4 linked regions of the Homo sapiens genome follow. The protein of the gene in region 1 purifies or fractionates together with the protein of each later gene. This does not show direct contact. Each region holds a gene or a part of one and is shown in the gene's direction. Other genes may lie near its edges.

Region 1 (7,793 bases):
TTGCTTATAATCCAGACTTTAGGTTTCTTGAATTCATGACATTCTCACTCCTCATCTTACAAGTCCTACTGAGGCTCCCTCCCTCTGCCCTGGTTCCGTTCTTTTAAGCCTATTTTATTCTGGTACAAGAATTCTGGGGGTGGGAGGAGAGCCTCCTGGGCTGGTGTCTCAGTCTTAGATTCTGGGAGCCAAATGCGGGAAGGAGACAGCTAGATGTAATGAAATAAGCTTCAGAGTCAACTAACTCCCCAAATTGAGGGAAAGACACCCACTGGTCCTGCTCCTAGGGCAAGTCTGAACAATGATGTCTGTTGGTTATTTCCCTGGGCAGTCATCCAAGGTAACCTCCAAATCTCAGCTGAAGCAGAAAATGGCCTAGGCCCCCAGTTTTCCTGGAACCACAGGAATGTTAATCTCTCTCCACTGAGCCCTGAGAAGCTGACTTCTTCATTCTGGACGTTCCAAACATTCCCTTTTGGTTTGCAATCACTGTGCTGTCCTCACCCCAACTTCCTGCCACACCCCAGGGCTCCCACAGCTCCATGGTAGCTCTTTCCTTCCTCCAGGTCTTTACTGGGGCTGTAGCTTGGCCACATCTGGAGGGCCATCCCCACCCTCATCTCCCACCTGCTGCTCGACCATCTCTGGCCCTTCTCATTCTTCACAGTTTCTTTTAAATGCTCTGGACTGGTATTCCCCACAACCTCCACCCCAGACAGAAGTCATTGCCTTTCCCACAAACACCCTTGTTCCCCTGACTTGCAGTAGATCATTCCACTGTGGTGGGTCATGTTCATTCCCACCAGCCTTTGCAGTCCTTGGAGGTGGGAACTCTCACCACTCCCTCTCTGGGCCACGGCACCTGGCTCAGGGCCTGGCCTGGCACCGAGTGGTGCTTGGTAAAGGTTGGATGGATGGATGGGCATGTGGAAGGAAAAGAGAGAACCAGAGAAAGGATGGTCACTAGTCCTAAGGTTTCAGAAGATGCAGGCTAATGTGGTCTTGTCATTAGCTTCTCCAAAAAAGTCATGGTTTTTGGCAGTTTTCCTCCAATATAGAATTGTTCTTAGCAAATAAGGCTATCCAGCCAATCCACTCATTTTAATACTTTGGTGTGGTATAGTTGACATGTCTCTAGGAAACCATGTTTTTCCAAATGAGAAGCACAGAGCAGGGCAGTGTTGCCTGAAAGTCATACCTACCTGGTATTAGTTCCACGTGGACCTGGCTGCTGATGTCCTGATCCTGGCCCAGAACAAATTCACATCCCTGCTTTGGGACAGATAGGCCTGAGTCCAGGCGTGGCCCTCCCTGGGGAAATTACAGGCTTAAAGGCACAGGGAGCTGAGCAGACCTTGAGTTCCTGTGTGAATTAGTTGCCCCTGCTGAGGAATAAATCAAGCTCTATTGTTTCTGAACTTTCTAGAGTTCCTTCCACCAGCTTTGCAGGCATCGGCTGGTGGGCTGAAGGTAACTAGGCACAAATGGCTTGAATGAGGTCCTCTGTGTGTGGCTTTACATGGGGATTGCCAGTGTATTTCCTCTTTAACCCTGACTCAACTTGATTGGTAGTGACTGGCTGCTATATTGAGAATGATTCTGAGGCCTCAACTAGGGTAGGCTGTGCAGGAAGAAGTATGGGAGATTAATTAGTGATGTCTGCCACAGGGATGAGAGGGAAGAGTAATGCCACATAGCTGCCACCCCTGGTTTTCTTAGTTACTGAGCACAGGCTTTGGAATCTAGCCAATTGAGATTGAATTCCATTCTACTCTCTGCTGGGCCTCAGTTTGTTCATCCCTGAAATGGATGTGTATATGTCAGGGTATGGGTTCAGCTGCTGTGACAAAAACATCTCCACTGGGTGTGGTGACTCATACCTGTAATCCCAGCACTTTGGAAGGCCAAGGTGGGCAGATCATTTGAGTCCAGGAGTTTGAGACCAGCCCGGCAACATGGCAAAACCCCTTCTCTACAAAAAAATACAAATATTAGCCTGGTGTGTTGGCATGTTCCTGTGGTCCCAGCTACTTGAGAGGCTAAGGTGGGAGGATCAGCTGAGCCCAGGAGATTGAGGCTACAGTGAGCCATGTCTGTGCCACTGCACTCCAGGCTGGGTAACAGAGGGAGACGCTATCTCAAAAAAAAAAAGTTTCAAAGCACTGTGGCCCAAAACGAGTGAGAGGTTTCTCATTCACATTAAAGAACCCAGAGGTAGGTGAGCAACTCTGAGCTGGGGGGCAGCCCTTTCTCAACATGTACCTTCTGCTGTGGGTCTGAGGCGGCCACTCTAGTTCCTGCCACTTCCCAGCCAGAAGCAAAGAGAACTGGACCAGAGGAGCGTGTATCTAGTGGTTTTAAAGGTAGGACCCAGAAGCTGCCCATCTCACTTTTCATTTCCCATTTAGGCAGAATAGTTACTTGGCTACACCTCACCATGGCTTGGCTGGGAGATGCAGTTTTAAGCTGGGGAACCATGTGCCCAGCTAACAGTCACTTGAACAGAGAAGGAGAAAGTGAGTGTCAGGATGAGATGCCGCAGGGATGCTGCTGGGCACCTCTCACGGTTGTTAGGAGAACTACTGATAACATATACCCCACTGTGGCGCCCAGCAGGCCCTCCCTGAGCTCACAAGATTCTTCCCTCTCCCTGCCCAGGAGCTAGTGAAGATCCTGCACAAGGCACTGGAGGCCGCCCAGCAGGAGAAGCGGGCGTCCAGCGCATACCTGGCGGCGGCTGAGGACAAGGACCGGCTGGAGCTGGTGCGGCACAAAGTGCGGCAGATCGCGGAGCTGGGCCGGCGGGTGGAGGCCCTGGAGCAGGAGCGGGAGAGCCTGGCGCACACAGCGAGCCTGCGGGAGCAGCAGGTGCAGGAGCTACAGCAGCACGTGCAGCTGCTTATGGACAAGAACCACGCCAAGCAGCAGGTCATCTGCAAGCTCTCTGAGAAGGTCACCCAGGACTTCACGCACCCCCCTGACCAGTCTCCTTTGCGCCCCGACGCTGCCAACAGGGACTTCCTGAGCCAGCAGGGGAAGATAGAGCACCTGAAGGTAGGGGCCTCCCCTCAGGGCCTGCCAGTCCTGCCGGTCCTCTGTCCCAGCCCTCAGGGAAGGTGCGCTCTCCACCCCTAAGGGTTTGCTAGGTGGAGTGGGGATACCCCTTCATCCTAGAATATTCACATTAGAAACACATGTTGATGGGAATATTGCTCTACGCTTCTTCACTTTCTTTACCACAAGGCCCAGTGCAGTTTGCCTGGGCCTTGATTGACCCATTAACCAGTAGCCCTGGTATCCTGGGCTACTGAAAAGTGAAGGTGCCTCTAGATTATCAAATGAGAGATGAAAGCCTGACTAGCTAAGTGTGGGGCCTGGCCTGGTCAACCTCCCTTAGTGCCATCCCAGTGCACCCGAGAGCCCTAAGGGGCCAGCACGACCCTCCCCCCACAGTCCTGCGCCTGCACACTGTACGGATGACCTGCAGCTGCCAATAGTCACTGCTCCCATCTGTAGAATTTATAGGGTGTTTCCTGTGTGCCAGGCACTGCCCTCGGTGGGTGCATCGCCACATTTAGTCCTCGCGCCAGCCCTGTGAGGTGAGGCAGCCGCTGGTGTGCTCCCCCTTTACAGATGTGGAATGCTGAGGCTGAGAAAGGTTAAGGAGCCTGCCCAGGGTCATGTGCTGAAGAAGTGGAGGAGCTGGAGCTGGGCTGGAGCTCATGTCTGCGGTCTGGTCTGTCTGCTCAGCTGCCGCTTCTAGCTGCTGCCACCATCCCTGCTCCTCCTTTCCTCCCCTTCCTTCCCCTTCTCTGTCCCTATCTTTCCCTAGGCTTCCCCACCCCACAGGGACCAGTGATGTCACAGGAGGTAGGAACTTTATGTGAAGTGTGTTGCCTGCCGTGACCCGCAGCCTCCTCTCTAAAGGGTTGTGACAGGAACTGTCCCACTGGGAGGCCTGTGGCTGTGGAGTGCACTCATAGCCTCCACTGTCCGTAAAGGGAGCCATACAACCAGAGTTCGTCCTGCCCCAAACCCTGCCACTCACAACCACATATGTACAGTCAGATGCCATATAACAGGCTGCATATGTGATGGTCCCATAAGATTACAATGAAGCAGAAAAATCCCTGTCACATAGTGACATCATAGCCGTCATAACATCATAGCACAACATGCTACCTTTTCTATGTTTACATGTGTTTAGATACACAAATGCCATTATGTGACAGCCACCTATGGTATTCAGTACCGTAACAGGTGCACAGGTCTGCAGCCTCGGAGCAATAGGCTACACCATCTAGCTGGGTGCGTAGTAGGCTAAATCACCTAGGTTTGTCTGCGTCCAGTCTACAATGTTTGCACAACAGTGAAATCACCTAATGACGCATTTCTCAGAGTGTATCCTCATAATTAAGCCACACGAGACTGTACATATAGACTTATAACCTTGAGAACTCTCATGCTACTCTATCAAAGAACTACTCGGTGAGGGCAGATGGAGAAAGAAAAAAAAAGAAATCAGGAAGCTTTTGAGAGAAAAGCTCTCAGTGGGCAGTGTTGAACAGTGGCCACCACCCAAGCTTTGAAGTCAGACTGACCTCTTTGACTCTTGGCTCTGCCTCTTTCTGGCTGTGTGACTTTAGGCATGTTAGCTCACCTCTGTGTCAAATAGCCCAACTAGTCCTCTTGACTAGGGCTGTTAGAAGGATAAAGGAAAAGGACGTGAAACCTGATTCCCTTCCCTTTCTTTCAGCAAAGACTGAAAACCCACATAACCAGTTCCCGAATCTTTTCCCTTATTTAGTCTGAAATCAGAGATTCTTTTGGGTTAAAAGAAAAACATAACCTTTCCAATGCAAATGCAGCCAGATGATTAGAAAGCTCTCAGCCCTCCACACAGCAGGGAAAACTGCTTCCATCTGATTGCTTTTCTACCCTGCCTGCCCCCAGCCAGGCGGCTTCCTCTTCTCTCCACCCATACTGCCGGAATCCACTGTGCAAGCCCCGGTAGAGCAGCACAGGGGTCAGAAAGATTTGTGGTGGCGCACGCCTGTGTTCCCGTCTACTCTGGAGGCCGAGGTGGGAGGATCGCTTGAGCCCACGAGGTGGAGGTTGCAGTGAGCTGAGATTGTGCCACTGCACTCCAACCTGGGTGAAGGAGTGAAACACCATCTCAAAGGAAAAAAAAGAACACTAGATCAGCCAGGTGGCTCCAGACAGCCTGAGAGTTGATTGTAATCATGGACTCACTAGGAGACTGAGTGTGCCCCTGAATTTACATATTCAGGAATTTTATTTTTTTTTATTTTTATTTTTTGAGACGGAGTCTTGCTCTGTCACCCAGCCTGGAGTGCAGTGGCGCGGTCTCGGCTCACTGCAAGCTCCGCCTCCCAGGTTCACGCCATTCTCCTGCCTCAGCCTCCTGAGTAGCTGGGACTACAGGTGCCCGCCACCATGCCCGGCTAATTTTTTTGTATTTTTAGTAGAGACGGGGTTTCACCATGTTAGCCAGGATGGTCTTGATCTCCTGACCGCGTGATCTGCCTGCCTCGGCCTCCCAAAGTGCTGGGATTACAGGTGTGAGCCACCGCACCTGGCCATGAATTTTCTTTATCAGTGAGCTCAGCTACATGGAGACTCTGGGTATGTGATTCACATTAACCAAGAATACACTTGCATATGATCCTCAGAGGCCCAGTGTTTTGTGCTTTGTGCTTTAAAGGGTTGCATAAGGCCAGGCATGGGTGGCTCACACCTGTAATGCCAGCATTTGGGGAGGCTGTGGCAGGAGGATTACTTGAGGCCAGGAGTTAGAGACAAGCCGGGGAAACATAGCAAGATCTCATCTCTACAAAAAATTAAAAAATTAGCCAGGCACAGTAGCACGTGCCTGTAGTCCCAGCTACTTGGGAAGCTGAAGCTAGAGGATTGCTTAAGCCCAGGAGTTCATGACCAGCCTAGGCAACATAGCAAGACCCTGTCTCTAAAAAAAAATAAAATAAATTCACTAGGTATGAAGGCACCCGCCATAGTCCTAGCTACTCAGAAGGCTGAGGTGGGAGATTACTTGAGCCGCCCAGGAGTTCGAGGCTGTGGTGAACTGTGATCACGCCACTGCACTCCAGCCTGGACAACAGAGTAAGACACTGTCTCTATTAAAAAAAAAATAAAAAAGAGAAAGAGTTGCATGTAGTTGGTGTTCCTTAGTTTTTAGCTTTTAGAATACCCATCAAATATCCATTGTCTTGAGTTTGAGGACAGAGAATGTTGAGGTTTCCTGCCTGCCCTGTGATTGAGGAACCCAACTTTAGGGAATGCCCCTTGTTATTCAGACTTTGGTTTTGAGAACAGGATCACTGACCTCTTGAATATCAGATCTGGAAAGACTCAGAAATCTAGTCTGCCCCACTCATTTTCTGGCAGGGACAGCTGAGCTGGGGCAAGGGAGAAGGACTGGCCCAGGGTCAGGCAGCAAGAGGCAGGGCTACAGCCGGAACCTGGCCTCCCATGCCCAGGCCACTGCCTTCCACACAGCACAGGGCCTAGTCCATGGGCATGGCCCAAAGAGAATTCCCGGGCTCCTGCTTCCCTGGTCCCCCTTCTCCAGGGTTTTCCTTCTTTCATTCCACTGGTGACTGTCCTGTGGCTTTTCTCTTTTCTGAGGTTTCTCTTTTTCCTCCCTACAGTTCTGAGCCAAGACGAGCACTCAAGGTAGGGCATCGAGCTGGAGGGGGAGGTACTGCCCGACGCCACCCACTGCCACTGCTGTTCCAGGCTGTGCTCACTCTGCCTCCCTGTCCGGCATGTCTGTGCCTTCCCTAGAGCTGGAAGCAGGGTATCTTATGTGACAAAAGCCTTCTTTCCAAAGCCTTAGAAATAACAGTGTGTAGCCAAGCGTGGTGGCTCACAATCCAGTGCTTTGAGAGGCCACGGTTGGAGGATTGCATGAGGCCAGGAGTTTGAGACCAGCCTAGGCAACATAATGAGACCTTTTTAAAAAATTAAAAATTAATTAGCTGGGTGTAGTGGCACACACTTGTAGTCCCAACTACTCAGGGGCCTGAGACAGGAGGATCACTTGAGCCCAGGAGGTCAAGAGTGCAGTGAGCTATGATCATGCCATTGCATTCCAGCCTGGGTGACAAAGTGAGACCCTTTCTCTAAAAATAAAAAAAGAAAGAAAAATAAATAAATATCCATGAGCACATCTAGGCCTGGGAGGAGGAAGGGGTGATATCAAGGAGGGAGACCCAGTGGTGTGGAGCAGTGGCCAGCGCCAGAGCTGGGTCTGCTTTCTCTACGCAGTGTCTGCTGAGCACCTGCCATGGGCTGAACACACCTGGGTTTGGATCCTGGCTCTCTTTCGTGACAAGGGGAACTTACTTTCTCTGTGTGTGTTTCCTCATCTGTTAAATGGGAATTAGGGCACTTTAATAGTTATCCCACAGCCTTGTGGATATGAGGGAGATGGGTCAGGTCATGGTAGGTCCTTTCCTCCCTTGCGGGGGGGCTTGTTGTATTTTCCCGGGCATTGGATTCCGAACTCTGTGAGCCGACTGAGGGGGTGGGTGCAGGGTGGGGAATAGTAGCTCTCGAGCTGTCATGCAAACTCAGTGAGGGAGACGATGCTCACGCTCACGTTGCACTTGCCACATGCCAGGCACCGTTCTGAGCCTTTTGCACATATTAACTCACTGAATCCTCTCCCAGCCACATGAGGTAGTACTGTTATTATCCTCATTTTCCAGATGAGAGGATGAGGTTAAGTAACTTGTCCAGGGGCTCAGTGG
Region 2 (7,793 bases), about 12 Mb from region 1:
AAGACATTCACAGTGTCGTGCAACCATCACCTCTATCTAGTTCCAAAATACTTTCACCCCAAAAGAAAAATTTATGATCACGTTCCTACATACACTCCCCTTTTAGTGAAGGAGACGACTTTATGCAACCATTCGCTTAGAGACTGGGAAAAAAAACGATTTAAATTGACTCATCGATTCTGTTGCATCTAATGCCAAAAGGGCCTATTACCAGAAAATAAGTTTGTAGCAAAGTAGAAGAAAATTGTGATCAGGTGAGAGAATTTATTTTTATAATCAATTTTTTAGGCCTTTGATATTACCCTGATTATATATGGTACTACTAGTGTACTGATTATGTATCATTCTATATTACCTCTTTTCTGTAGGAGCAAGCTTATTTTCATACACCGTGGGATGTAGAATTAAACAAGGTTTTAAGAACTAGAGGGCACAACTCATTCTTTGTGTCTCTTTCAATCTCAGTAAGAATTATTCAGAATTCTTCCACTGGTAATGGTAGATCCAGGAAGAGCCAGAAGGTTCAGGAACAGTTTTTGCCTTTTCTTTTTTGCTTTTTAGCAACCCTATTAACTGGGTTTTTTGTTTTTTGTTTTTTGTTTGTTTGTTTGTTTTTGTTTGTTTTGTTTTTGGAGACAGGGTCTCACTCTATCTCCCAGGCTGTAGTTCAGTGGTGCAATCATGGCACACTGCAGCGTCAACCTCCTGGGCCCAAGCGATCCTCCCACCTCAGGCTCCCAAGTCGCTGGGACCACCGGTGTGCACCGTCATGCATGCACCTAGGGTCTCCCTGGGTTGCCCAGGCTGGTCTCGAACTCCTGGGCTCAAGCAGTCCACTGCCTCAGGCTCCCAGTGTGCAGGGATTACAGGTGTGAGCCACCATGCCTGGTCCCTGATGTCTTTCTCCATCACCATTTGACATGTTACCTCTTCCTTCAGAATTTCTTTTTTTTTTTTTTTTTTTTGAGACAGGGTTTCGCTGGGTTGCCCAGGCTGGAGTGCAGTGGCGTGATCTCAGCTCACTGCAGCCTCTGCCTACTGAGTTCAAGCAACTCTCTGCCTCAGCCTCCTGAGTAGCTGGGATTACAGACGCCCACCACCATGCCCAGCTTATTTATTTATTTATTTTTGTATTTTTAGTAGAGATGGGGTTTCACCATCTTCACCAGGCTGGTCTTGGACTCCTGACCTCGTGATCCACTCGTCTCAGCCTCCCAAAGTGCTGGGATCACAGGCATGAGCCACCGTGCCTTGCCCTTCCTTCAGAATTTCTATGTCAGTCCCTTTCTCTCCATTCCTAGTCATTCAGCAGACATTTATCAAGATCTGCTGTGTTTCAAGACAAATGAATGAGTTATACAGTTCCCAGCCTACGGGGCACAGTCGCAGGCCAAGCCTTTGCCACCTCTTACTAGGAGTAATAGCACTGCACATTCTCAGGCTTGGTCTCTCTCCACACTTGCTCCCCTCTGCTTCAGTACATGTTATCATAGCAGTTCTCAAGGTATCCATGTTGCCTGACTCAGCTGTTTTGATTAACTTGCAGGAGTCTACTGTCTGTACTCTGTTGTCCTACTTAAGTATGGCTGACTTTAGAAGCTTCTCAGAAGCTGTACCAGAGAGAAGGCACATCAATGCTGTTTTCCACACAGCCTGTGTTGGTGGGCTTGCAGTCATTTTAGTTCCAGCATTCGTGCCCTAGTCAGGACACTATGGCATGTATTGCTCTTTGTGCTTAGTTTATCATCAGCATGTATCGTCAAGTGCAAAAGTAGTGATGCCGTCAAAGGCCTAATGAATGGAGACAGATAAGAGAGCAAACAAAAGTATACGTAATTCAGTAAAACTGATTGGAAGAGGTAAATGTTACTTGGGTCTAATAAGTAGAGACAGATAAGAGCAAACACAAGTATACCTAATTCAGTAAAACTGATTGGAAGGGATAAATGTTACCTGGATATATAAATTTTGATGTTAGGAATTTGACATGTTGCAACATTTGAAAAGTGCTATATGTGTGGAGTCTACCAGATGTCAACAAAAGGCTAGGAAAAGTAACTGATAATATAACACAGTTCAATGCTGTCATTATCAGATTATCTACATCTTCCCTATTTCCCTACATATCTAGAAATTGACAAGTGGAATTGAACTTGCAGGAGCCAGATGTGATTAAAGAATCTGAAGAGTAAATAGTGCCCTGCTTGCAGACAGATTTATTTCCATCATTGTACAAGTCAGAGCAACTCTAATTTGTAGGACTGGGGTGGATCACAGCTGTGCATTAAAACTCAACCAAGTTCTATGAGAGAATGATGGTGCACAGCCACTATCATTCTTGATGAATTCATTGTGTACGGAAGGTGCCTTAGGGCTTAACTTTCTATTGGAGTCCAGTTGAGAAGCTAGGAAATGCTTAATGCTCAGTAAGGAACTGTGTGTTAGTTCATTGGACTAGAACCAGAAGTCCTTTTGAACAGTGACCAAGCACTAAGATTTCTATACGAAGGCAGTTTAGGAAATACTACACAAGAAGCACTGGAAGTAGCCTAGCAGTCTAACAGTGAAAGAACGGTTAAGTACGTGAGAGTAGATCCTGTTGGTGAAGGATGTAGTCATTGTAAATTATGGTTTTTTTTAAGTTTCAGCGTTATAAATCTTCATTCTTTGACTTATGCTGTGCAAATTATTTAATCTTTAATACCTAAATCACAATGGCAGGAATAAAAAGATGTTACGTTTAAACCATTAAACACTTAGAAGGTGCTCAGTAAATGGTGAATATATGTTTATTACCATGTATCAAATGAAAAAATAATTTGTTAAATTGTTTCAATGGAGGCTGCAAAATTATGTATATATGCCATGATTACAAACCTTTTTCTTTTTAGAGACAGGATCTTCCTCTGTCACCCAGGCTCATATGCAGTGGCATGATCATGGCTTACTGCAGCTTCAAACTCCTGGGCTCAAGCAATCCTTTCACCTCAGCCTCCCAAGTAACTGGGACTACAGGCACATGTCACCTTGACTGCTAATTTTTTTTTTTTAATTTATTGTAGAGACAGGGTCTTGCTCTGTTGCACAGGCTGGTCTCAAACTCCTGGCCTCAAGCCGTCCTCCCACCTTGGCCTCCCAAAGTGCTGGCATTACAGGCATGAGCCACCACACCTGGCCTACAAATATATATTTGTATATTATATGTATTTTGGATGTGTATATACACATATACACAAATAAGAAAAGACAAAAGAGAATGCTTTTGTCTTTTCTTATTTTGACACTCTAATGCCAGCCATGGCTGTTAAAGAATGATTTTAATAAAATACACTGTACTTGTTCACTGGCTCTATTTATTTACCATCTTTTGTTCCCCCAGAAAATTGATATGTTGACATTAAAATGCCATGTTTGTAGAGAAATTAAGTTGTAGTTGTTGGCACATGTTTAGTATGCATAATCACAGAGTTAACTTTAGCTTTGAATTTAATTTAATTTTCTTAAACAGCAAAAAATGAAAATTGCCTGGGGAGTTACTTAAAGAAATACAGGATTGAGAATGAAAAGTTTCTCCTACAAGGATTAGAAAGCGTGTTGCTATGAAGTAGTGATAAAACATTCATCTACAATGCCTTTTCCCTTAATTTTAACAGCGGAAACATCTTGGAAATATATTTATTTTTCAATTAGGCCAAAATACCTTACCTCAAAGATAACCTCTCACTTTAAAAGTCATATTCCTGTGATTTGCATGTGAGTAAAAACCATCATATTTTAGTGGGCTTCAGGAAGCTCTTAAATTTTAAAACATGGGCCAAATCTCAGGTAAGCTATATTCATTAATAGTACATAAATTTCTTGAGAATTACATGTTTCTTAGTTGTTCTGGGAAGTGCACTGGTACTGGCAGGCTGCTAGGCCCTGCAGCATGCTGTGTAGTTGAAGATTTTATGCTGTTTCTCACATGAATTTTACCTAAGCACAAAGTTGCCAGAGTATGTAGACTTAAAGCAGGGTAGGATTCTTAGCCTCTCCCTGGTACTGAGACACAAAAAGTACCTCTTATAGCTCGATTTTTTTTAAGTCCCAACTCTTCCCTTTTAACCACTCTCCCTTGTTCTGAAAATCAGATCAGTCACTTTGAAAGTTCTAAGAACCTTTTCCCTTGGTTGAGTACTGACCTGGGTTGTCCATCATTAGTAACACCCTCCCAGTGGAGTAGGTTTGGTTTTGGCCTGGCACAGGAAAATTAAGACATATTTTAGTTCCTGTAACAGCAGCTTCCCAGGCACACAGGTTCCTGTTGAATGTTACTTTTCCCTTAAAGAGTCCTTCAGTATGAGATGTGAACATCAGCAACTTGGTGATAAGTAGACCAATCCCCACGAATTGCTTTCATTTACTGTATTTAAGTGTTTCCTGCTAAAAGTTGAGAAAATAAGAAAATAGATGACTTTGTAAAACCAAATTAGATAATTTAGAAAACCACTTGGAGATAAAAAAAATTATATATTTGGGGCTGGTAAACGGAGTAGTGTGACAGACACATTTGTTTTGTTTAGATCATGCAGTGGTGTGCCCATCTGTGCCTTTGATCCACTCAGATTAAACCAAGACCACGTTTCAGATTTTAGTTCCCGCGGATATTTTCCATGGCTATGCCTTTTTTTTTTTTTTTTTTTTTTTTTTGAGACAGAGTCTCACTCTGTTTCCCAGGCTGGAGTGCAGTGGCATGATCTCGGCTTACTGCAGCCTCCGCCTCCTGGGTTCAAGCGATTCTCATGCGTCAGCCTCCGGAGTAGCTGGGATTACAGGCGCATGCCATCATCCTCAGCTAATGTTTGTATTTTTAATAGAGACGGGGTTTCACCATGTTGGCCAGGCTGGTCTCAAACTCCTGACTTCAAGTGATCCTTCCACCTTGGCTGACCTCAAGTGATACTTCCACCTCGGCCTCCCAAAGTGTTGGGAATATAGGCATGAGGCACCAGGCCCAGCCAGGCTATGCCTTTTTAAAATAAACTTACAGAAAGCTATTTTTATTTGACAGTAAGTGATTAATTTCTTCAGCATGCACATAGGAAAATATGGTGAAAATTTACATGTGGTTGATAAGAAAGCTAGCTTTTATTGACAATCACTTAGAACAGGGGTCCCCAGTCCCTGCGCTACAGACTGGTACTGGTCCATGGCCTGTTAGGAACAGGGCCTCACAGCAGGAGGTGAGAGCAGCAGGCAAGCCAAGCATTACCACCTAAGCGAGCTCCACCTCCTGTCAGATCATCAGGGGCATTAGATTCTCATAGGAGCACAAACCCTAGTCTGAACTGCAGGTGTGAGGGGCTAGTTTGTGCACTCCTTATGAGAATGATGCCTGATGATCTGTCACTGTCTCTCATCACCCCTAGATGGGGCCATCTAGTTGCAGAAAAACAAGCTCAGGGCTCCCACTGATTGTATATTTTGATGAGTTATATAATTATTTCATTATATATTACAATGTAATAATAGAAATAAAGTGCACAATAAATGTAATGCATTTGAATCATTCAGAAACCATTCCCCTTATCCGTGGAAAAATTGTCTTCCACGAAACCAGTCCTTGATGCCAAAAACATTTGGGACCACTGCTTTAGAAGGGTAATGAGCACTTTAAAAAATAATAACTATTTCTGTAACTATTTAAAGTTGGTATTCTGTGACTCAAAAAACAAAAACAAAACCATAATCCTGCTCTTCCCTGTTTTCTCCTTCCACCCTGTGTGCTACTTCCTGCGTTGGAGGACTGCATGCCTCCTTTTCTGACAGAACCATGGGAAACCATGGGCCTTTAGAGGCCCACCTACTGGTAGTGGTTTGTTTTTTTACAGTGACATGTAATAAGAAATGTATATACACAGATACTATATATTAATAACTGAATTAAAAGTTTTACTAAACAACATTCACGTTTTTAAGTGCAGTGCATTGTTTTCTATTTAAAATGTTTAAGACATGTTGGTCTTCACATTCCAAATTGCTTTCATGCCCTTCTAAACTGGGTCTGTACTGTGTTTAAGCATGCTCATCTAGCTGAGCCCCAACCCCGACAGGGCAGGAGAGCACACTCTAGGGCCATCCATTGGGCTGGCTCTTCCAGGTGTCAGTCCTGGCCTCAGTTTACTACCAAGTCTTAGGTCGTAATATCCAGACTTTGAGACTTCACAAGCAGTCTCAAAGACTTTACTGTACAGTAAAATGTCAGTACAAGGGACTGGAGGGCCTGCAGAGCACTGCCAGCTAGAGGAGCTGATAAAGTAGGAAGGACGCACATAATGTCTTCATTATGATGTACTCTCATAATCATAATAATACTTGGTATTTTTGTGCCTGGCACTGTCCTGAATGCTTTCCATGAGTTTAAATATTTAATCCTCACAAGAATCAGGAGGAGGAGGAACTGTTATCCCTGTTTCACCAGTAAGGGAATAGAAGTCAGAGAAGCCACTTAGGGTGACTGCCCTGGAGGCACAGCTAGGAAGTGGGCCAGGAATGTCGGGGAACAGTCTCCTTCCCAAAGAAGTGGGGTTGGCAACACCGACCTATTTCACACAAACTGTGATGTTTTTCTCATTTTGAGGCCCGCTGAGCTATGTTAAAACAGCATTTCTCTGGGAAACAGCTCCTCCTTGTTCTTATTTCTGTCATTGACTAGCTTAGTTTTGTTCATCTAGATCTCCTGAGATGTTGGTTTAATCCACGTTGAAAAAAATCTATGTGAGCATTTGGTGGGACTGGTGCAAGAAGCACACCCTGGGTTATTTTATGCTGGTAACACTGTTTCCTCAAGCTATGCATTTTGATGGATTAGAAATGGATTGTGAGTAAGAAAAAAAAAAGCAGTAGGATTAATAATCAACAGGAAAAACACCTGAAGGTTGGCCTTCCCAGTGAGATACTTGATTCCTTCATTGGCTCTTTGTCGTAGGCAACATGCTGGTTCCTGGGCATAGAGTTGGTGCACAAAATAGATGCTGCCCAGAAAAATAGCATTTGTAATGTGAGTGAATAGCACCATAGAGAGAAGGACAGGGAACCAACCTGGACTGAGGAGCAAGATTAAAAGGATGTTGCTAGCAGATTTTTTTTTTAAATAAAGAGGATATTTTGAATTAGGTATAGTTTATGTGTTTCTATATAAAGTCCATAAGGTACCCTGGCAAGAATGGAACATAAATTTGTCACATGAATTTGCTAAAGACAGACTTACGAAGACTGATAAATATGAGGCTTTGAATAACAAGTTTTGTAGCTAAAAACATCATTTTCTTTTTTCAGACACCTTCAGCAGTAAACAAGATAAAACAACTTCTTAAAGATAAGCCTGAGCATGTAAGTAAAACCAGTTAATTATTCAGTAAAAAACTGAAGCTGCATTTTCAGAATGAATTTATCCCATGATATACAGTATTATTTCATTTAGGGGTTTTTATTTAAAATGTAAAATATACTCAGGATTTTTAAAAAATTCAAATAATACAAAAGGGTATTTAACTAAAAGGAAGTCATTCTTTCAACCTGACTCTTCGTCGTCATTCTTCCTTCCAAGAAGCAATCTCTTTGGTATCCTTCCAGGGATAATGTATACATTTGAAGCGGCTAGACCTGATTTTCTCAGCCTCCTCACAGTTGACACTTTAGGGCAGATTGTAGAATGTTTGACAGCATCTGTGGCCTCTGTCCATTAGATACCAGTAGTACCCCCTCTTTGCCTCAACCAAAGAATCCACATATGTGGAACCCACCGATACGGA
Region 3 (7,483 bases), on another chromosome or scaffold:
GAAGGCTTGTGGAAAATGAGGCAGTAAGATCAAGAAAATCTTGACACCTTTCTTTTTCAACAGTACCCTCATTGCTCAGAACAAAATTTGAACTTTCTTCACCAAAGAGGCTGTGGGAAAAAACAAATTGAACTCTTTTTCTTGGAATTTCCTTTTGTAAGAAGTTTATTAAAAAAATTTGTTTTTAACCTAAGTAGGATTTATCTATATTAACCAAACTTAGCTACAAATGGACTTTTGCTGTTCTAAAATATAAAAACTACCCTCTCCAAATGAAATTGATGACGATGATAGCTTCCATTTGTTGAGGAGGTTTTATAATCTTGGTGTTGGATAGGTGCTTTATTTACATTATCTCATTGAAGGCTTTCTTTTTTTTTTTTTTCGTGATGGAGTCTTGCTCTGTTGCTCAGGCTGGAGTGCAGTGGCGCCATCTTAGCTCATTTCAACTTCTGCCTCTCAGATTCAAGCGATTCCTGTGCCTCAGCCTCCCGAGTAGCTGGGACTACAGGCATGCCACCATGACTGGCTAATTTTTGTATTTTTAGTAGAGATGGTGTTTCGCCACGTTGGCCAGGATGGTCTCAGACTCCTGACCTCAGGTGATCCGCTGGCCTCGGCCTACCAAAGTGCTGGGGTTACAGGTGTGAGCCACTGCGCCCGGCCCAGCCTCATTGAAGGCTTTCAAAAGAATCTTCCTTCTCAGGCTTTGAAGGCAGTTTTCAGGGGGACTTTGCATTAGCCATATCTTGGTTACAGGAGACAGAGTTGACTGTGTTCTATGATCTCTGTTTGAAACCTACTTCTGGTACAAATACCACCATTAGTGGGGTGATGGCAAGTGTCAGCTAACTCTCAAACGTACTGACTCGAAGAACCCGGAAGGAAGCATAGAAAGGTACAGTTGGTTTTCAGTTCATCTTGACGTAGGAGCCACACGCTGATCAGAACACTATATCCTGGTTCTGATGTTTTCGAGTTGACTTTTGTTCTTAGGCAGGCTCTCCCTTTGAAGTCAACGATCCTGGCTTTGTTTATTTTTTGTTTTTGAGACAAAGAGTCTTGCCCAGGCCGGAATGCAGTGGACGATCTCGGCTCACTGCCAAGTTCCGCCTCCTGCGTTTACGTCATTCTCCTGCCTCAGCCTCCCGAGTAGCTGGGACTACAGGCGCCCGCCACCACGCCCAGCTAACTTTTTTTTGTATTTTTAGTAGAGATGGGGTTTCACTATGTTAGCCGGGATGGTCTCAATCTCCTGACCTTGTGATCCGGCCACCTTGGCCTCCCAAAGTGCTGGGATGATAGGCATGAGCCACCGTGCCCAGCCAGATCCTGGCTTTCTTATATGGCCTTTAGTAGCTGTCTCCCAAAGGGTGAAACTCTTTCACTCAGAATTACTATCAATCCCTTCTGTCAGAATCCATTTGATAAAGAAAAAAGAAATCTCTGAAAACTTACTTGGCTCTGGTGGGATCACATGCCCACCCTGAATGAATCCCTGCATCCAAGGGAATAGGATACTCTGGCCAGTGTGGACCACATGCCTGCCCCTATTGTGGTTGGAGAGAGTATGATAATGAAAGCTTTCTGGGGTACAGGTGGGTGTGAGTTCTGCTAGCAGAGGAGGGAGGCGGGGAAGGGACACCGTACAGGCAAGGGCACATGGCCACTAATCAGCTCTAAAATGTTTTGAGCCATGGTGTTTTGTGAAAATGGCAGCACAGCCCCATGACTGTGGGTCCTCCACTGTTAGTGAGGAAGACTACTTCAGCAGCCACAAGGACAAGCTTGAGGGCAGGAAGGCCACTGATGTTGCCACTCAAACAGTAGCAAGGAGCAGGGCATTAGCAATTCATAGGGCCTAGGGTCTGATCTGGAGTCCAGCAGTAGCTCCCCTCTGTGATAATCCCTTTATCTGGTTTCCTTACCTTTAAGATGGGGGTGCTGGCCTAAATAGTTTTCTTACCTTTAAAATGGGGATGCTGGCCTAAATATTTAGAAGCCCTATTTTTTATTTTTAATTAATTTTTTGAGATGGAGTCTCGCCCAGTCATGGAATCTCGCCCAGTCATGGAATGTGCAGTGGTGTGACCTCAGCTTACCGCAACCTCTGCCTCCGGGGTTCAAACAATCCTCCCACCTCAGCCTCCCGAGTAGCTAGGATTACAGTCATGCACCACCACGCCTGGCTAATTTTTTATGTGTTTTTACTGGAGACAGGGTTTCACCATGTTGGCCAGGTTGGTCTTGAACTCCTGACCTCAAAGGATCTGCCCACTTCATCCTCTCAAAGTGCTGGGATTACAGTCATGAGCCACCGCGCCTGGCCCCCTTTCCAGTTTTTAAAAACTCTGAGGCAAGGACCAGGTGAGGTGGCTCACACCTGTAATCCTAGCACTTTGGAAGGATGAGGTGGGAGGACTGCCTGAGCCGAGGAGTTCAAGACCAGCCTGAGCAACATAGCAAGACCCCGTCTCAAAACAAACAAACAAACAAAAAAACCCTCTGAGGCTGAGCATTTAGTGTGTTTGTTAAACAGTTGGCCTTTTTACTTTTATGGTAACACACATAAATGTTATATATGTGTTAAGGCTAGTTAAATACATGCAAATGGTAGGTATGATATCACCAAATTTGTGACCCTTATGTGGTAAGATACCTGTACTATATTATTCAGATGGACAGTGAGTAAAACAAAATTGCTCATCCTTACCAGCTGCTGTTTGTTTCTTTTTAATCTTTAAGTTTTACATGGACGGATGGCAAATTAAACAGCAGTAACTTGGTAATTCTGTCTGGCCAAGTGGTTGAACACTTTGATCTGGAGTTCCGAATCCTGTATGCCCAGTCCAAGCCCATCAGCCCCAAACTCCTGTCTCACTTCCAGAGCAGCAACAAGTTTGATCACCTCACCAACCGAAAACCACAGTCCAAGGAGCTCACCCTGGGCAACCTGCTGCGGATGCGGCTGGCTAGGCTGTCAAGTACTCCCAGGAAGGCGGACCTGGACCCAGAGATGCCCGCAGAGGGCAAGGCAGAGCGCAAGCCCCATGACTGTGAGTCCTCTACTGTTAGTGAGGAAGACTACTTCAGCAGCCACAGGGACGAGCTCCAGAGCAGAAAGGCCATTGACGCTGCCACTCAAACAGAGCCAGGAGAGGAGATGCCAGGGCTGAGTGTGAGTGAGGTGGGAACACAAACCAGCATCACCACAGCATGTGCTGGTACCCAGACTGCAGTCATCACCAGGATAGCAAGCTCTCAAACCACGATTTGGTCCAGATCGACCACTACTCAGACTGACATGGATGAGAACATTCTCTTTCCTCGAGGAACTCAATCTACAGAAGGGTCACCAGTCTCAAAAATGTCTGTATCGAGATCTTCCAGTTTGAAGTCTTCCTCCTCTGTGTCTTCCCAAGGCTCTGTGGCAAGCTCCACTGGTTCTCCCGCTTCCATCAGAACCACTGACTTCCACAATCCTGGCTATCCCAAGTACCTGGGCACCCCCCACCTGGAACTGTACTTGAGTGACTCACTTAGAAACTTGAACAAAGAGCGGCAATTCCACTTCGCTGGTATCAGGTCCCGGCTCAACCACATGCTGGCTATGCTGTCAAGGAGAACACTCTTTACTGAAAACCACCTTGGCCTTCATTCTGGCAATTTCAGCAGAGTTAATTTGCTTGCTGTTAGAGATGTAGCACTTTATCCTTCCTATCAGTAACTGCTCCGTGTTCAGACTCCTGGTTTCTTCCAGGCTTACAGTGGACATCATCAGCTTCCTGCTTTAAAAAATATCTTATGTCCCTAATTGCCTTTCTTTTACCTGACTTTGTCACCTTTGTTGTCTTTGAATTCTTTAGGCTGCATATTATTTTACATGCTTTGTTTTGTCATGTATATACCAGGTATTGGTTTTATGGTTTAAACACTATGGATACAGGGGTTTGTTTTGCACAATTTTAATAGTCATGCACTACATAATGATGTTTTGGTCAATGACAGACCACGTATATGTTGGCAGTCTCATAAGATTATAATACTGTATTTTTACTATACCTTTTCTGTGTTTAGATACAAATACCATTATGTTACAGTTGCCTACAGTATTCAGTGCAGTAACATGATGTACAGGTTTGTAGCCTGTTTTGCATTTTTCTTAGGTTGTATGCTCTTCTGTTTTAAAGGTTTGAATCACCAGCATTTTTGTGATCAAAATCCTATTTAGAAAAAATAAAACTACTTTCTGTTTATCTCTTTAGAATATCTGTGTTCTTAGCATTAAATAAATATAAACTTGTGCTTCTGTACTTTTTCCCCCCCTCTGACACTTTTCTCTTTAAATCTGGGAGTATGTCACAAATTAATGCACCTAATAGATATAGGTATATAGATATCTATATCTGAAGGTTTTTTAAATAGTGTCAGGGTGAGGAAGAAGTAGATGATCCAAACTATAGAAGAGAAAATAGATCCACTTAACCTTCCTCAGCATCATGAATATTGATGTTACTCTATAGTTTAAGTGAGGAAACTGGCCAGAAATAGCAGGCCTTTGCACATGCTCTGCCTTTTCTCTTTTCGAAGAAAAAGCCTGAGCTATTTCAGTAGGTCCTTGGTACTCTGGTACTCTGCTTGTCTACCAAAGGAGGCGTTAGTGTATGTTCCTATATTCATTCCCAATATTAACTCTGGTGGCCCCATGGGCCTCATTTCATCAGCTGGGTGTATTGACAGTGATTTAGCCATCTAATATCCCAGAGTAGGGGCAAAAGAGGACACTGACAATTATCCCAGTTTCCTGGTCCAGTGGCAGGCAGTGTAATGGTTTCTACATCCTTCTAATCAGGATTGGTATGGCTGTGGAATCCTGTTTTTGTCTCATTCTCATGGACAGACAAAAGGGAAGAGAGTTAAATGATGCCTTCCTCCCTCTCCTGACTTAGCTACAGCAAAAAAGATCTATAACAGGGGAAGGTGTCTGCCACATAAAATGCTGATGCACTTGTATCATGAGTGTCCCTACACTCACGCGTGTGCCAGGACTTCCTTATGATGGTCAGGCTATTTGCTGGGTTAGTGCTGTAATCTGTGGCTATAAAGAAAAGGAAAGGAAGGAAATTGATCCATGTCTGCTTAGAAACAACTCTGAGCTAAGCCTCGAGTAAACATATTGTTATTTGAAATCATCTTACAGACTTAAGTCACTTCATATATGCCATCTTTGATCTTTGCAGCAATGTAGCAGAGAGCTATGCAGGTTAGGTAGCTGTTATTTCCAATTTTCAGATGAAACTGAGGCACTGATTAAGTAGCATATTCAAGATGACATGGCTTGTAAATGGTGATGCAAGAATTTAAACACAGGTTTCTAGATTCTAAGTGCAGTACTCTGTTACATGACTATTTCTCTACACGGAGTATGGAAGCAGGAGAGAGTGTACCTTGAGAAATGGCAGTTACTGCAATGGTGAATGGAAAACTAAAACAGCCTCATTAACAAACGTTAAGTACAGGCTGGGCGCGGTGGTTCACGCCTGTAATCCCAGCACTTTGGGAGGCTGAGGTGGGCGGATCACCTGAGGTCAGCAGTTTGAGACCAGCCTCAACATGGAGAAACCCTGTCTCTATTAAAAATACAAAATTAGCTGGGTGTGGTGGTGCATGCCCCTAATCCTAGCTACTCGGGAGGCTGAGGCAGGAGAATTGCTTGAACCTGGGAGGCGGAGGTTGTGGTGAGCCGAGATCACGCTATTGCACTCCAGCCTGGGCAACAAGAGCCAAACTCTGTCTCAAAAAAAACAAAACAAAAACAAAACAGCAAAAAAAGCAAAGTACAACAAAAAAAAGTAAGTACAAAGTCCTAATCTGTGATACTTCTTTTTGTTTGTTTTTGAAGCAGTCTCGTTCTATTGCTCAGGCTGGAGTGCAGTGGCACAATCACAGCTCACTATTTTTTTGTAAAGGCAGGGTCTCACTATGGTGCCTAGGCTGCTCTTAAACTCCTGGGCTCAAGTGATCCTCTTGCCTCAGCCCCTCAAAGTGCCGGGATTACAGGCATGAGCTACTGCATTCAGCCTGTGATAATGTATTTTAATTTAGTTTGAAATTTTAACTGAATGTTCTATGGAACTGTTAATAGGATGACATAACAAAGGTTCTGTGTTTAGTGTGAGAAACTGGGCCAAAGAAATGTAAACAAAGTTCTTTAATGCAGGACTACTCAGAACTCTGAAGTAATGATCACAGTGAATTTCTCAGAGCAGGGCAGGTATATGGCTTACCACAAACTACCTACCACAGAGTGCTCTTTTTGTGGAGCAGGACTCAAAACCATTATTCTCTGAAAGTGTGGCCAACAATTAGAAATAAGAGCAAGAGCCGGGCGCGGTGGCTCACGCCTGTAATCCCAGCACTTTGGGAGGCCGAGGCGGGCGGATCACGAGGTCAGGAGATCGAGACCATCCTGGCTAACACGGTGAAACCCCGTCTCTACTAAAAAAATACAAAAAATTAGCCGGGCGTGGTGGTGGGCGCCTGTAGTCCCAGCTACTCGGGAGGCTGAGGCAGGAGAATGGCATGAACCCAAGAGGCGGAGCTTGCAGTGAGCCGGGATAGCGCCACTGCAGTCCAGCTTGGGCGAAAGAGTGAGACTCCGTCTCAAAAAAAAAAAAAAAAAAAAAAAAAAAGAAGAAGAAGAAAAAAGGCCGGGCGCGGTGGCTCACGCCTGTAATCCCAGCACTTTGGGAGGCCGAGGCGGGCGGATCACGAGGTCAGGAGATCGAGACCATCCCGGCTAAAACGGTGAAACCCCGTCTCTACTAAAAATACAAAAAATTAGCCGGGCGTAGTGGCGGGCGCCTGTAGTCCCAGCTACTTGGGAGGCTGAGGCAGGAGAATGGCGTGAACCCGGGAGGCGGAGCTTGCAGTGAGCCGAGATCCCGCCACTGCACTCCAGCCTGGGCGACAGAGCGAGACTCCGTCTCAAAAAAAAAAAAAAAAGACAAAAAAAAAAGAAATAAGAGCAAGAGATACATGGAGTCCTAAGAAAATGACCCAGTCTCTCAAAGTAAGCAGTCTTTCTGGAGTTGAGTCCAGAAAGTATCATTTATATGGCAGAGTTTTTCAAAGTGAGATCTGAGGACCACCTGCATCAGTCTTGGGGTGCTTGGGTGCTTCCATTTAAAATGCTGATTACTGGTTTCACTCCCAGGGGAGCGGGGTATGAGTGTGGCAGCCTATGTAGTTCAAAAATATTTGTTATTCCTCCCTGGGAGAAAATTATATCCCTCTGTCTACTGTCAGATTTGGCCATCGCAGACTTAGCTGTGAATATTTCAGCATATATATCTAAAAGATAACTGTTTTAGAAAACATAATCATGGCCAGGCGCGGTGGCTCATGCCTATAATCCCAGCACTTTGGGAGGCCAAGGCGGGTGGATCACGAGGTCAGGAGTTTGACACCAGCCTGGCCAACA
Region 4 (7,793 bases), on another chromosome or scaffold:
CACTTCTTGAAGAGTTCCTTGAGGTTTAAAGAAAAAAAAAGGAAAAATTAATGAAAGTGGCTATAAAATGTTTAGTGACCTCTTCTCTCTCAAACCAAAGGATGCTTCTAGATCTGCAGACCAAGTCAGCACTAAAGGAAACAGAAATTAAAGAAATCACAGTTTCTTTTCTTCAAAAAATAACTGATTTGCAGAACCAACTCAAGCAACAGGAGGAAGACTTTAGAAAACAGCTGGAAGATGAAGAAGGAAGGTAATCTATGATTAGAACCTGAGTGCCTTGTTAACTCAGTTACGATGTGATTTTTTAAATAACTATGTTTTTCTCAATTTAATTCTTCCATGCAGAAAAGCTGAAAAAGAAAATACAACAGCAGAATTAACTGAAGAAATTAACAAGTGGCGTCTCCTCTATGAAGAACTATATAATAAAACAAAACCTTTTCAGGTTTGTCAGTTAGGAGTAAACTTACTTGTGTTTATTTTAGGGACTCACTTTGTTCCCTATTATAGTGAGGACAGTGACTCGGGTTTTCTGCAAGATCATTTTGCTCTGCACTTACAGTGCCAATTTAGCTCACTATTAAAGGTTTATACATTTTATTAAATTATGCATAATTTTTTCCCACATTATTGAAGTATAATTGACAAATTTAATTGACATAATTTTTTCAATGGACCCTTTGTGGTTTAAAAAAAAACTTTGTAATGTGGAACTTAAAAGTTTGGCTCAGAGGGCTTGCCTGGTATGAGCTTTTGATAATTAACCTATTTTAATTTGTGGTATGACTTATTGCAAATACTCATTGTTTCTCAATATACTGATCTTTTAAAAGAAAAAAGAATAAATGCTGATTTTGGAACTTAGAAGTACAGTATTGGTTATAATGTGGTAATCTAACTGATACAGATAAAACTGGCCAGCTGGCTTTTTTACCTTGTTTCTTTTCCTCTGTTTTAATGATCTTTAAAATGAAAAATACAAAGTTTAAAAGATTCTCATAGAGAATCTATGGAGAGCCCTGAGAATATGTGAACATACCTTGTTTTCATTTGTGTTTTTAATTTTCTTTAGTGTTTATGGTTTATATGAAACTAGTAAGATCAAACTGTTTTAAGTCTTAACTTTATTTAAAAAATCTTTTTCAGCTACAACTAGATGCTTTTGAAGTAGAAAAACAGGCATTGTTGAATGAACATGGTGCAGCTCAGGAACAGCTAAATAAAATAAGAGATTCATATGCTAAATTATTGGGTCATCAGAATTTGAAACAAAAAATCAAGCATGTTGTGAAGTTGAAAGATGAAAATAGCCAACTCAAATCGGTTTGTAAAATGACTTTTCATTTTATTAAAGATATTGGAGTGGGGGTTATTCTAACTATAATACTTAAATAAAATGAATATCTTTGGTATCAGAAAAAAATAACTGTTTATAGAGGAAAATTGAGCTGTGATTTAGTGGATTTATTTTAGAGTGTTGACCAGATGGGCATTCAATGTTCTAAAGTTTTCTAGCTACCTTCTTAATATATTGAAAATTACTTGAGTAATTGGATGAATTCATTAAGCTTTACATATCTATTTCCATTTGCAAAACTGCAAACTCCTTGATGTAAAACCATAAAGAGAAGCAGTGTTCAAAAATATTTGGGCATTTAAATTTTTTAACATATGTATTGAGATATAATTGACAACCCATACAATCCACCCATTGAAAGTGGACAATTCAGTGTTTTTTAGTATACTCACAGATTTGTGCAACCATCACCATAGTCAATTTTAGGACATTTTCATCACCTCAAAATGAAACCTTGTTATCCTTTTCCTAACACTCTCCTATCTCCTCACCCCACCCCACCCTTCAGCCCTAAGAAACCACTAATCTACTTTCTGTCTCTGTTGATTTCCCTATTGTGGACCTGGCATATTCATGGATTCAAATAATATGTGGCCTTTTGTTACTGGCTTCTTTCAGTCAATTAGCATAATATTTTCAAGATTCACCTGTGTTGTAGCATGGAGAGTACTTTATTTTTTTTATAGCCTAATAATTCATTATGTGGGTATACCACATTTTATTTATTCGTTTGTCAGTTGATAAACACTTGTTTGCACATTTTTGGCTATTATGAATAATGCTACCATAAACATTCATGTACAAGTTTTTGTATGGACATTTGTTTTTTCCTGGGACATATTATTTCCCTGGGAAATAATAGGAGGGAAATTGCCAGATCATTTGATAACTCTACATTTAATCATTTCAGGAAGTATCAGACTACATTCAGATGAGATCGGGTGCGTTCAGGGTGGTATGGCCATAGAAAGGTCAGGCTGTATTCAAAAGTGGCTCATACCAATCTATATTCTACAGGCGGTGTACGAGGGTTCCAATTTCTCCACATTCTTACCAACATTTGTTATTATCTGACTTCTTTATCCTAGCCATTGTAGTGGGTATGAAGTGGTATCTCATTAACTTAACTTGCATTTTCTTAATTGGTAATGATGTTGGTCATCTTTTCATGTGCTTACTGGCCATTTGTATATCTTCATGAAAGAAATGTCTGTTTATACTCTGCTCATTTTTAAATTGGATTATTAGTCTTTTTATTATTGTGAGAATTCTTCATCAATTCTGGACACAAGTCTCTTATGTATTATTTGCGAATATCTTCTCCCATTCTGTGCATTGTCTTTTCACTTTCTTGATGATGTCCTTTGACCCAAAAAACTTTTATGACGTCCAGTGTGTCTATTTTTTTGTTTGTTCGTTCCTTGGTATCTATCTCCTCTGCCAAATTCAAGGTCAGGAAGATTTACCCCTGTGTTTTCTTCTAAGAGATTTATAGTTTTAGCTCTTACATTTAGATTATTGATTGATTTTGAGTTAATTTTTGTATGTGGTGTGAGGTAAGGGTCCAGCTTCATTCTTTAGCATGTGGACATGCAATAGTCCCCACACTATTTTTTAAAGAGAATATTCTTGCCTCCAGTTAATGGAGTTAGCATCCAATTAAAAAATCATTTAGACTGTACATGTATGGATTTATTTCTAGACTCTCAACTGTCTTCCATTGATCTATACATCTATCCTTGTGCCACCACACTGTCTTGATTACTGTTGTTTTGTAGTAAGTTTTGAAATCAGGAAGCGTGAGTCCTCTTTGTATTTTTCAATATGGTTTTGTCTATTCTGGACCTCTTGCAATTCTATATTAATTTTGGAATCAGTTTTTCTACAAAGAAACCAGCTGGGATTCTGATGGGAATTGCATTGAATCTGTAGATCAGTTTGGGACATATTATTATCTTCACTAGGTTAAGTCTTCTAATACATGAATATGGGATATTTTTCCAATTATTTAGATCTCATTTAATTTCTTTCAACAATGTTTTATAGTTTTCAGAGTATAAGTTTTCCACTTCTCTTGTTAAATTTATTACTATTTTATTCTTTTTGATGTTTTGTAAATGAAATTGTTAATTTCATTTTTGGATTGTTGATTGCCAGTGTATAGAAATACAATTGATTTTAATATATTTATCTTGTATCCTGCACCCTTGCTAAACTCATTTTAGTTCTAATAGTTTTTTAGTGGATTCCTTAGGATGTTCTTATAGATCATGTCTTTTGCAAATAGAGATAGTGTTACTTATTTTCCAATCTGGATGCCTTTTATTTCTTTTTCTTGTCTAATATCTCTGGCTAAAACCTGTAGTATAATACAGTGTTGAATTTAGAAGTAATGAAAATGGATGGACAGCCTTGCTTTGTTCCTGATCTAGGGGGAAAGCATTCAGTCTTTCTCCATGATATATGATGTTACCTGTATGATGTATATAGCGTGACATTATTAGATGTTGATTTGTTGGCCAGCCGAGGTGGCTTACGCCTATAATCCCAGCACTCTGGGAGGCCAAGGCAGGTGGATCACCTGAGGTCAGGAGTTTGAGACCAGCCTGGCCAACATGGTGAAACCTCGTCTCTACTAAAAATACAAAAGTTAGCTAGGTGTGGCGGCGGGCGCCTGTAATCCCAGCTACTTGGGTAGGAGAATGGCTTGAACCCAGAAGACAGAGGTTGCAGTGAACCGAGATGGAGCCATTGAGCCTGGGAGACAACAGCGAAACAATCTAAAAAAAACAAAGATGTCGATTTGTCATAGATGCTCTTTATCAAGTTGAGGAAGTTCCCTTCTGTTTCCTAGTTTGTTGAGCATTTTTATATGAAAGGGTAATGAATTCTATCAAGTGCTTCTTCTATTTCTATTGAGATTATCATGTAATTTTTTTATTCTGTTGATATGATGTATTTTATTAATTGATTTTTAGATATTAATCTAACCTTCTGAGATAAATCTCACTTGGTTATGGCATATAATTATTTTTATATGTTGCTGAGGGGTTTTTTTCAGCCATATTCCTAAGATATACTGGTCTGTAGGTTTTCTTTGCTTTGTTTTTGTTTTTTTAATGTCTGTCTCATTTTGGTATCAGGGTAATGGTGACATCACAAAATGAGTGAGAAATGTTCCCTCTTTTCTATGTGGAATGGTTTTTGAATAATTGGTATTAATTCTTCATTGAATGTGTGGTAGAATTTATTGGTGAAGCCATCTGGACCTTGGTTTTTCTTGTGAATATTTTTTGGTTACTAATTCAATATCTTTACTTGATATAGGCTTATTCAGATTATCTCTTTCTTCTTGATTCGGTTTTCTTCTTGAGTAGTTTATGTCTTTCTATAAATGTGCCTAATTTGTTGGTATATAATTGTTCATAGTATTCCTTTATAATCTTTTTTTTATTTCTGTAAGGTCAGTAGTAATGGCTTCTCTTTATTTCTGATTCTAGTAATTTGAGTCTTTTTTTTTTAAGTTTCTTTCTTTTTTTAAATTTTTAGTGGAGAAAGAACTTTATTTTTTTGTTTGGTTTTTGGGTTTTTTTAGAGACAGGATCTCACTCTGTCACCAGGCTAGAGTGCAGTGATGCAATCACGGCTCACTGCAGCCTCAACCTCCCTGGGCTCAGGTGATCCTCCCACCTCAGCCTCCCAAGTAGCTGGGACTACAGGCGTGCGCCACCACATCCGGCTAATTTTTCTACTTTTTGTAGAGACAGAGTTTTGCCATGTTGCCCAGGCTGGTCTGGAGCTCCTGGGCTCAAGGAATCTACCAGCTTTGGCCTCAAAATGCTGGGATTATAGGCTTGAGCCACTGCACCTGGCCAAGAACTTTTCTTTTTTATAATTTCATCTTTTATTTTAGATGTGGGGGTACATATGCAGATTTGTTACATGGGTGCATTGCATGATACTGAGGTTTAGGGTATGACAGGTCCCGTCAGCCAGGCAGTAAGGATAGTACTCAATAGGTGGTTTTTCAGCCCTTGTTTAATGGCTGAAAAATCCAACATCCGATTACTCTCAGACATTTTTTCTCCTTGTGTCCAAATGTATAGGTTATACTTTTCTGTTTATTGGCATGCCTTGTAATTTTTCATTGGAAAGTAAATTTTTAGATCATATATTGTAGCATTTCTGGGTACAGCTCCCCCTCCTTTTGGGGGCTTTTTATTTGCTTGTTTGCTTAATGAGTGGCTCAATTATTTTAGGGAAACATATCCCACTACCTCCCCAGACCCCAACAGTATTGTGCCTCTGATGTTGCTGTTCAGGGAGGTACAGTTTTAGGTGTGCCCACAATTACCCTGGGATGACACTTGCTTTGGTAGGGCTGCCTTCCTCTCTTTCCGTGAACATAGTGACTGTAAACTCCAGTAGATGCTGGCTCCTTGCTTGATTATTTGCAACAGTGCCTTAGGGCATAAATTGCTCTATAAACTAATCCAATCAAATTCTGGCTCCTTTGTAGGGATTGCATACGAGAGCAGTGCTGGATATTTATTCTGACTACAGAAGGGCTCGTCCCAGCTGTCATATTCCCTAGTTTTCTCCTGCAAACTAACTAGCCTACTGTTCAGCCTGTATCTTAAATCTCCTCCCATTTCTCTCTCACTATAACCACCACTGTTCTTTAATGGTTCCCCAACCTTTTTGGCACCAGGGACCAGTTTTGTGGAAGGCAGTTTTTCCACAGACCGGATCACCCAGCTTGTGATGGGTTTATGTGGATGGTTTCAGGATTAAAGTGTTCCACCTCAGATCATGAGGCATTAGATTCTCATAAGGAGCATGCAGCCTAGATCCCTCACATGTGCATTTCACAATAGGGTTCACACTGCTGTGAGAATCTAATGCCGCAGCTGATCTGCCAGGAGGGGGAGCTCAGGGGGTAATGCTTATGCTTCCTGGCTCACCACTTACCTCCTGCTCTGCAGCCGGGTTCCTAACAGGCCTTGGATGGGTATTGGTCTGTAGCCCGGAGGTTGGGGACCCCTGCTTTAGAGCACCCTTAGGCTTCAGCTTCTCCAAGCTCTGTTGCAGGTGAAGTCAGTTCCTTTGAAAAGAAATGAGGAGCTCCCTGTTTTATGGCCTACTTGTCTTTTCCGCCCTCCTTTCCCCCTCCCCCGACAATATCCCTGAGCCAGGACTAGAGCTGAAATTGGGGACAATGGCAGTTTTCTCTCTGAGTGACATCCTCTGCCCTAGGAGCTGAGTTTTCAGTGGACTTGTGGGGAAGAGATGAGGAATAGCCTCAGGCCCTCTTGAGTAACCTCCTGGTGTAGAACCATCCCCCTCATGAGCCAGAGAAAGAGTCATCGGGGCCCAGCATTTTCAACACACTGTGCCCAAGGTGAGCCCCTGTTCCATGAATGGGGCTGACTGGAGGAAGGGATCCCCCACCTCACAATTGCATTTGTCCAGGATATAACTGCAGCCACAGGGAGCTGGGGACAAAATGAGAAACTCTGATGTCCTGGTCCTCCTGGGAGGGAAGCTTCTGACTCGGAGTTGGGGGAAAAGAGGGCCCTGTGCTTTTGGCTGTAGCCGTCTGGCGTGGACTTTGCCTTGCTAAGCTGGGAGTGGGAAGAGGGGAAGGAGTTTTGGCTTAAACACTGCAGACTCTCTTTTTCACCAAATTTTTGCAGATTTTCTTGAATAGATGTTTCTTCATTTGCTATTTTTCCCTTAGGTCAATTTTCAGAGGCTTTAACTGGTTAATATTTTATAACTTTTAGTTTCACTAGGGAGCAGGTCAGCAGAACTTTCATGCTGTCATGCCAGAAGTCCATCTCAGCAATTACTTTTGAGTTGAACTTTTATCAGAAAAATAGCTTTGTAGCTGAGGAGGGGCAAGGAGATTTAAAAGACTGTATCTCCTTTGTCACAGCTGTTTCATGTCATTTTGTAATTCAGTCTTAAAGCCTGTGTCTAGTAGTGATTTTTGCTGTTGAGTGTGATAATACATAAACAACTTTGGAATTTGCCCGCAACATTGGTAACACATTTCACTGACATACTCTTTAATAATTGTTTATTACCTATTATTTCTTTTTACCTAGGAAGTATCAAAACTCCGCTGTCAGCTTGCTAAAAAAAAACAAAGTGAGACAAAACTTCAAGAGGAATTGAATAAAGTTCTAGGTATCAAACACTTTGATCCTTCAAAGGCTTTTCATCATGAAAGTAAAGAAAATTTTGCCCTGAAGACCCCATTAAAAGAAGGTAAGACATGAATAAATGTATAAAAGTGTCCTCTTCCTTTGGATTTGCTTTTATAGCATTTAGCAAGTCATCCATTTTATGAACTGTGAAAATTTGTTGACACCTTCTGATAAAAGCAGTTCTTACTGAGATTGTTGTGTACAATGACTGTTTTCTTCCT

What was found.
Region 2: the proteins of TBC1D2 (region 1) and ISCA1 purify together in Homo sapiens (affinity purification with mass spectrometry; one large-scale study listed by BioGRID and IntAct). This does not show direct contact.
Region 3: the proteins of TBC1D2 (region 1) and FAM83D purify together in Homo sapiens (affinity purification with mass spectrometry; one large-scale study listed by BioGRID and IntAct). This does not show direct contact.
Region 4: the proteins of TBC1D2 (region 1) and HMMR purify together in Homo sapiens (affinity purification with mass spectrometry; one large-scale study listed by BioGRID and IntAct). This does not show direct contact.

Annotation. Positions count from the first base shown.
Region 1 is NC_000009.12:98,216,094-98,223,886, reverse strand, and holds part of TBC1D2 (TBC1 domain family member 2A), read left to right. Parts: intron 1-2,658; coding exon 2,659-3,054; intron 3,055-3,633; coding exon of another isoform or gene 3,634-3,663; exon of another isoform or gene 3,664-6,683; intron 6,684-6,689; exon of another isoform or gene 6,690-6,966; intron 6,967-7,793. UniProt on the Homo sapiens protein: Acts as a GTPase-activating protein for RAB7A. Signal effector acting as a linker between RAC1 and RAB7A, leading to RAB7A inactivation and subsequent inhibition of cadherin degradation and reduced cell-cell adhesion.
Region 2 is NC_000009.12:86,273,767-86,281,559, reverse strand, and holds part of ISCA1 (iron-sulfur cluster assembly 1 homolog, mitochondrial precursor), read left to right. Parts: intron 1-106; exon of another isoform or gene 107-3,343; intron 3,344-7,317; coding exon 7,318-7,371; intron 7,372-7,793. UniProt on the Homo sapiens protein: Involved in the maturation of mitochondrial 4Fe-4S proteins functioning late in the iron-sulfur cluster assembly pathway. Probably involved in the binding of an intermediate of Fe/S cluster assembly.
Region 3 is NC_000020.11:38,948,794-38,956,276, forward strand, and holds the end of FAM83D (protein FAM83D), read left to right. Parts: intron 1-2,745; coding exon 2,746-3,727; 3' UTR 3,728-4,313; downstream 4,314-7,483.
Region 4 is NC_000005.10:163,482,920-163,490,712, forward strand, and holds part of HMMR (hyaluronan mediated motility receptor), read left to right. Parts: exon of another isoform or gene 1-100; coding exon 101-253; exon of another isoform or gene 254-348; coding exon 349-448; intron 449-1,149; coding exon 1,150-1,326; intron 1,327-6,331; exon of another isoform or gene 6,332-6,464; intron 6,465-7,470; coding exon 7,471-7,633; intron 7,634-7,793. UniProt on the Homo sapiens protein: Receptor for hyaluronic acid (HA). Involved in cell motility. When hyaluronan binds to HMMR, the phosphorylation of a number of proteins, including PTK2/FAK1 occurs.